Linked DNA regions of Homo sapiens. The protein of the gene in region 1 purifies or fractionates together with the protein of each later gene. This does not show direct contact. Each region holds a gene or a part of one and is shown on either strand. Other genes may lie near its edges. The genes, in order: STAU2 and ADAR.

What was found.
Region 2: the proteins of STAU2 (region 1) and ADAR purify together in Homo sapiens (affinity purification with mass spectrometry, with the first as the bait; one large-scale study listed by BioGRID). This does not show direct contact.

Annotation. Positions count from the first base shown.
Region 1 is NC_000008.11:73,736,819-73,740,638, reverse strand, and holds part of STAU2 (double-stranded RNA-binding protein Staufen homolog 2), read left to right. Parts: intron 1-770; 5' UTR 771-883; intron 884-2,289; 5' UTR 2,290-2,337; coding exon of another isoform or gene 2,338-2,355; intron 2,356-3,820. UniProt on the Homo sapiens protein: RNA-binding protein required for the microtubule-dependent transport of neuronal RNA from the cell body to the dendrite.
Region 2 is NC_000001.11:154,590,951-154,594,770, reverse strand, and holds part of ADAR (double-stranded RNA-specific adenosine deaminase), read left to right. Parts: intron 1-3,820. UniProt on the Homo sapiens protein: Catalyzes the hydrolytic deamination of adenosine to inosine in double-stranded RNA (dsRNA) referred to as A-to-I RNA editing.

The DNA.
Region 1 (3,820 bases):
AACTGTTTTCAGTTAAAAAAAAAGATGATTGGTTGTGTTTGTATTTTAAGTTATAGCTAGTGTATTTTTTTAATGAGATACTCCATTCCTATTGAAAGCGGGTGTATTTTAACACCATGTGACTAATGCTACACTTGTGAATAATCTCATTTTTTGAATTGAAAATATAAATGTTTAAGTTTTATAATTTGCCACTTTGAAGTTCTAATGTTACTCATTTGCTCATGTTGAACAGGGATTTTATTTTATTTTTTTGCCTATCCAAATATTAATTAATACCTAAAGCACCATGGGAATATTGAATTATAGAGTTGGACAGGATAGTCTTATTTATTGTTGCATAGCACATTGCACCAGAATTTAAGGACTTAAGACAACAAACATTATCTTACAGTTTCTGTGGGTTAGAAATCTGGGTGCAGCTTAGCTGGGTGCCTGTGGCTCATAAAAGAGGTGGTAGTCAAGCTGTCAGTTGGGGTTGCAGTCACATCTGGAAGCTCTACTGGTGGAAGATCTGTTTCTGAACTCATTCATGTGGCTCTTGCAGGGTTCAGTTTCCTGGGGCTCTTGGACTGAAGAAATCAATTGTTGCTGGCTGTTGGCCAGAGGCTTTTCTCAGTTCTTTGCCATATGGGCCTCTCCAAAGGGCACCACAGTTTGGCATCTGCCTCCCTCTGAGCAAATGAGTGAGAGAAGGTGACACCTAAGAATTTTTATAACCTAATCTTGGAAGTGGTATCTCATTATTTCTGCTATATTCTATTTGTTAGAGGCTGCCTACCACAAGGACTTTAGCTTACTTTTTAAAGATTGAAGAAAAAAAAGAAGACAGAAAAAGAAGAACTCAAAGATACACAAAGTAATTTGAACCAAGGCTCAGAAGGTAATCTGAAGAACTTTGACTAAAACTCAAATTCACCAATATCCAGGCCGTGTGCTCTTTATACAGCATCCCGTTCTCATAGGAAATGTGACAGTAATTAGAAAATAAATAAAAATTGATGCAGATGCTGAGGACACTATTGTAAGAAAAATATTAAAGTTTTCAAAGTCATTTTGAATGGACTCTAGTTTGTCATCTTGAAAAAATGGTAGCCAAATATGGGTGTGTGTTTGTGTATGTATGTGTGTACTTACAAAACGTTTGCTTCCAGGGGAAAGTTCAATATTAAAATTTAGCAGCATAACAGTTTCTATACAGGTGATTAGATATAGGCCTTTTGCTGTGTATCACAATTGTGTTGTTGCTTTAGATAATTTTTAGGGGAGAGGTCTGTATATAATTTATATTTTATATAAACTTTTTTTCATTACAAGATCCCATGATTTATTTATTTGTAATTTGGACTTTCCTGCCCTTCATTGGCATCTGTTTTCAAATTAAAATTTTTTTTTTTTTTTTTTTTGAGATGGAGTCTCGCTCTGTCGCCTAGGCTGGAGTGCAATGGCGCAATCTCGGCTCACTGCAACCTCTGCCTCCTGGGTTCAAGCAATTCTCCTGCCTCAGCCTCCTGAGTAGCTGAGATTACAGGCACGCGCCACCATGCCTGGCTAATTTTTGTATTTTTGGTAGAGGCAGGGTTTTCACCATGTTGGCCAGGCTGGTCCCGAACTCCTGAACTCAAATGATCCACCCACCTTGGCCTCCCAAAATGCTGGGATTACCACGCCCAGCCTGAAATTTTAATATACATACTATTTTTATACTGATGATAACAGACAAAATGACAGAGAAAAAGAAACTATTCAGCAAGATAATTGTACTATATGCTCTTTTCCATACCATCTAAGAGAATACTTGTGGTGTTGCATCTTCTTTAGGATTAATTTATCGTATAGAAGATGGGAACAAAGCTGTTTAAAACAGGACTGCAAAAAGGGAAGTATACATTAAATATTAACCTGAAACTCTCAGATTTATTTTTAACAGCTTCACTTTTGTTGGGATTGTCTTAGAAGTCTAGAAGCAGAAGGAGCTTTGTTCAGATCTGTACTGTCCAGTATGGTGGCTACTAGTGACGTAGTTATTCAAGTGAACATGAAAGAAAATTAAATATTATTTTCTTGATTGCTCTAGCCACATTTCAAGTGCTCAGTAGCCACATGTGGCTAATGACTTCCAGATTGGACAGTGCAAGTACAGAACATTTTTATCATCATAGAAAGTTCTATGGAGATCTGGATAAATTACATTTTATATTTGATTTTGATCAAGGGCATGTGTTTAAAATACCAGTCATTGAGGTTATCAGCTAAGTTGAACTTTATTTCTTCATTTTCGTTTTCCAGTTTTTGGAGCCGTGAGGGATACAGCAGTTTGGTCAATATTGTCTTAACATGCTTCAAATAAATCAGGTGAGTTTGTGTTAAGGCATTTTTCATGCTTACATGGTGCTTTGGCTGTAAATTGTGGAACATTTTAACTCAGCTTTTCTTTTCTATAACTGTAACCTGACTCATCACTTTTTAAAGCAGTTACCTACTGTATAGTCATCATTGGAGGCTGTGTAGGGCAGGTTGTTTAAGGATTAGAATGATCTTCTGAAAGTTGATAACTTCTGGTTGTGCAAGGCAGAAGGTTTGTCTGTTCTTCTTGATGTCACATCCCTTTAGGACTTGTTAATGTGTTCAGAATGCTTATGATCATGATACAGCTTCAGTAGGTGGCAGTTCTGCAGACTCAAAGCATTTTTAGTGACAAATCTTGTGAAGTAGTTGTATCTGTTTTTTTTTTTTTTTTAAAGTTCACTTTCCAGGGCACTGAAAAACACTAGAAGGAAGTGCCCTGATAAACTACAGCATTTAATACTTTAGACTCACTGAAAGAAGTGCTTTTCTTAGTTCTTGACGTTTCTCCAAGAACTTTATACATTTAATTTTACCTTTCCCGATCAAATAGAACATTGTATCATAACTATAGTGTTAGAAAATACTTTTGGCCAGGCTGGGTGGCTCAAACCTGTAGTCCCAGCACTTTCTGAGGTGAGGTGGGAGGATCTCTTGAGCCCAGGAGTTTGAGCCAGACTGGGTAACGTAGTAAGACCCTGTCTCTTAAAAACAAAAAAAAAAAAAAGGAAAGAAACAAAATACTTTTATTTCTTTTGATTGCAAATCAACAGAGAAGTAATTAAACTTTTTTTCTTTTCCCCTGTGATTAAGAAAGTAATCGACTGGGCACGGTGGCTCACACCTGTAATCCCAGCACTTTGGGAGGCCAAGGCGGGCAGATCACCTGAGGTCGGGAGTCCGAGACCAGCCTGGCCAACATGGGGAAACCCCGTCTCTACTAAAAAATACAAAATTAGCCAGGCATGGTGGTGCGTGCCTGTAATCCCAGCTACTCGGGAGGCTGAGGCAGGAGAATCACTTGAACCCGGGAGGCGGAGGTTGCGGTGAGCCAAGATCGTGCCATTGCACTCCACCCTGGGCAAAAAGAGTGAGACTGTCTCAAAAAAAAAACAAAAGTAATCTTGGCCAGGCGTGGTCGCTCACGCCTGTAATCCCAGCACTTTGGGAGACGAAGGCAGGTAGATCACCTGAGATCAGGAGATCAAGACCAGCATGGCCAACATGGTGAAACCCCATCTTTACTAAAAATACAAAAAAATCAGCCAGTCATGGTGGTGCACACCTGTAGTCCCAGCTACTTGGGAGGCTGAGGCAGAAGAGTTGCTTGAACCCAGCAGACGGAGGTTGCAGTGAGCTGAGATCACACCACTGCACTCCAGCCTGGGCTACAGAGCGAGATGCGTTCCAAAAAAAGAAAGTAATCTTGACCCCCTGCCTTCCGACATATAGTCCTGCTCACCTTGCCAAAGAA
Region 2 (3,820 bases), on another chromosome or scaffold:
ACATTTAATAGGGACTTAGGAACAGAAATGATGTCTTGGGTGGCTGCAAGATGGTGGATCCCTGCACTTACCCTCCAGAAAGTATGCTTTCTATAGAGGCTTTTTTGGTTAAACATGCAGCTGGTCACACATTATACTTTCTTGTGAAACTTATGAGCACTAGCTGGTGGGGAGGCTTGGTAGACATCTTTGTGTGGAATTATTTATGCTACCCAACACTTTGGGATGCGGGAGTCAGATATTGGTGGTCATAGTGGTTTTGCATCAAGATGGCATCACTCTTGCCATGCAACCGGCATGTTTTCTTAATCTCTAAGGTCTATCACAAAGTGGAAAAGCAAGGTGTAAAGTGAGGGGAGAGGTGAAGATTGTCTGTATATGTCTAGAATATTTTCTTGAAGGATCGAAAAAACTGGCAACTGTGTTTGCTTCTGGGGAAGGAGGGACACTTTTATTGTACACTCTTAACTGTTTGAATTTTCACATGTTTGGCATCCAACTTGTCCATTTTAAAGTCATTAAGGAAAAAAGCTTATAAAAATGCTATCTTGTTACTTTAAATTTGTCTCTCCTTAATAGAAGTAATGTCAGCCGGGCGCAGTGGCTTACGCCTATAATCCCAGCACTTTGGGAGGCCGAGGTGGGTGGATCATTTGAGCTCAGTAATTTGAGACCAGCCTGGCCAACATGGTAAAACCCCATCTCTACTAAAAATACAAAAAATAGCTGAGCATGGTGGTATGCCCCTGTATGCCAGCTACTCCGGAGGCTGAGCAGGAGAATTACTTGAACCCAGGAGGCGGAAGTTGCAGTGACCTGAGATTGTGCCACTGCACTCCAGCCTGGGTGATGGAGTGAGACTCCGTCTCAAAAAAAAAAACAAAAAAATCAGAAGTAATGGCATTTCATTTATTCATATTTATGTGTTATTTGCATTTCCTTTTCTGTGAACCACCTGTTCTTGTCCTTTTCCAGTTTTCTTTCAGATTGTTACTCTCATGGATATGTAAGAACTTTTAACATAATTTTTAAAAGTAGCCCTTTGCCCAACATGACCCAATTTAGAACACACATCTGCCCACTGTTTAAGCCATCTGGAAAAGGAGAGGCCCAGTCTCCCTCCAGCTGCTCTTCTACTAATTCATATCCTTCATCTCAATAAGCACCTCCTTATCTTTAAGCACAGTCCTTCAGATGATAGGTTCAGTGCATTTCCTCTTTCTCTTCTGTGAAATCTTCTGTGAAATCCTTTCTAGGACTTCAAGTCAGCCATTCATTGAGAATGTAAGAACTTACTATGAACTAGATGGAAGATACAAAAAATTGCTGCCCCTGAGTGTGTAGCAGACATATAGCCATAGCAGTATTGAAATGTGCCATTGGAGGTGAATGCAGAGTGCTGTGGGGACACAGAGGACACTGCTGCCACTGTCTGCCAGGGAGCTGAGGAAGGTTGCATAGAGAGGGGAAATGCTAATTGAGTAACTACGTTTATTAACTATCTCGTACAATAATATACTTTAGTTGCTTCTTAATGTGAATTATGCTGGGTCTTTTTTTCCTTTCTGTCTACTGTGGCTGGTGACGTTAACTAATTTTATGACTTCTTTTCTGTTTTTTTTTTTTTTTTTTTTTGGAGATGGAGTCTCACTCTGTCACCCAGGCTGGAGTGCAGTGGCGCAGTCTCAGCTCACTGCAACCTCCGCCTCCTGGGTTCAAACAATTCTCTTGCCTCAGCTCCTCGAGTAGCTGGGATTACAGGCATCTGCCACCACATCTGACTATTTTTGTATTTTTAGTAGAGACAGAGTTTCACCATGTTGGCCAGGCTGGTCTTCAACTCCTGACCTCAGATGATCCACCCGCCTCAGCCTCCCAAAGTGCTGGGATTACAGGCATGAACCACCGCGACAGCCATGACCTTTAATATCTAAATGCTGGAGACCACTCAGAGCTCCCGATTCCTCCATCTAGTTGCTTACTTGTCACCTCTGTTTGGATTAACATCCCTAATATGACATGTCCAAAGCAGAACTCTTGGGTTTTGCCCCCTTCGCTTCATTTCCCCCAAGTCTTTCCCAGCTTAGTAAGTGATACCACTGTCTACCCAGTGGCTCAAGTCAGAAACCTGAGGATCATCTTTTCCTCTATCTCCTTTACCTCCTTCGTCAACTCATCCTTAAGTCCTATTGGTTATACTTAGAATTTCTATCCCAAATCCCTTCCTCTTCTTTCCACCTCCAGCGTCAGCACTCTAATCCAAGCCACTGTCTCATCTAGACTGTCACAATAGCCTCCTAACTGATCTTTATACTTTATTTACTCAACACTTATTTATGGAGTATCTTCTATTTTTTTTAGAACAGGAACCAAACATTAACCAATAGTCACCTAAAGAAATGTAAGATCTCATATTTGATAAGTATTCCAAAGGGCTGGAGTTGCAGCGAGAATCAATTATAGCACAGTTTGACTTAGGAAGGAGAGGGGGAAGGGCTTCCCCAAGAAGTACTGCCTGAGCTGAGACTTTAAGGATGATGAAGAGAGAAAGACTGAGGGTTCTAGGCGAAGGACACTGTTAAATCCTGTGGTGGGAGAAGCGCAGAGCTGGCAAAGAGGCTGAGAGGAGGCACTTATGGCAATAGCCCCATTTGGCTAGTGGCTACCATATTGGATAGCACAGCTCTAAAGGATTCTAGTTGCATAATTAACAAACTTTATCATATATGTAAATATATCAGTATAAAACTTTGCACGTAAGAGTTCATATTCTTTTCAAACACATGGGGCAGTCATGAAATTCTCCTGGATCCCTGAGGTAAAGATACTACACAATCTGTCCCTCCTGACCGCCTTCACCATCTTCTTTTCATGCCACTGTCCCTCTCATTCTGAACTTAAGCCCACTGGCCTGCACGGGCCTGCCAGCATGGACAAAGAAAAGAGTGAAGGCATTTAGTTGCTTCGGATCATCAAGGAACAGTGAGAAACTCCATGTGGTTGAACATAAACGTTGATTCCTTTTACTGCCTGAGCTGCTAAGTCTTGAAACTGAAGCCTCTGTTATATGCAGTTAGAGTATCCAAAGCTGGGTTCTCAGCCAGTAGATTAGGATCTGGTTGAAAGCTAGGATTCTTGATGCCTTGTCTGGTACATTTCCAAGCTGTTTTGCTCCACCATGCTCTTCCCTCTGTGTTTGGAAATTACCAGCCGGAGCGGTAGAAGCCACCTCCCTGCTCCACTTGGGCACTTTATTGTCAGCGCAGCTCATGCGCCCAAGATCCATTCCTTACCCCAGAGTTAGCTTAAGCCTGCCAGGAGTCAAAAAAACAACTCCCAGCAAAACCTGGGTCCCTGGCCTAAGGCCGACCTTGACCTAATGACCTCTCCAGGTCAAGTCCCCTTGAGCTAATAGGAAGTAAATGAGGGAATGGAGTTGGGCGCTTTAAAAATCAGACAGTGTATGAAGTAACAGTGACTTGTGGGGAGAAAGGTAGTCCCTTCTGATTTCTGCTTAAGAAGAGAGTCCAAGTTGGTGCTAGCATTTCGTTAAGCCTTCCTCATACTTCATAATCTTCCTTTATAGTAAGGACAGGCTCAGAGCCTTTGCAGGTAACAGTATCTAGTCAGAATTTTATAACATGATTTTATCATATTCTGTTTTACAGCCACCTTCAATATGTGGCAAGTGATACTGGTTTTCCATTTACAGTAGTGAAACAAAGTTTCCTATTTCAGTGTGTTTACATTTTTATCTCTTTTTTCATACCTAGTATTACGGATATTTACATTTTTAGAGTCTGTTTGTTTATTTTAGAGA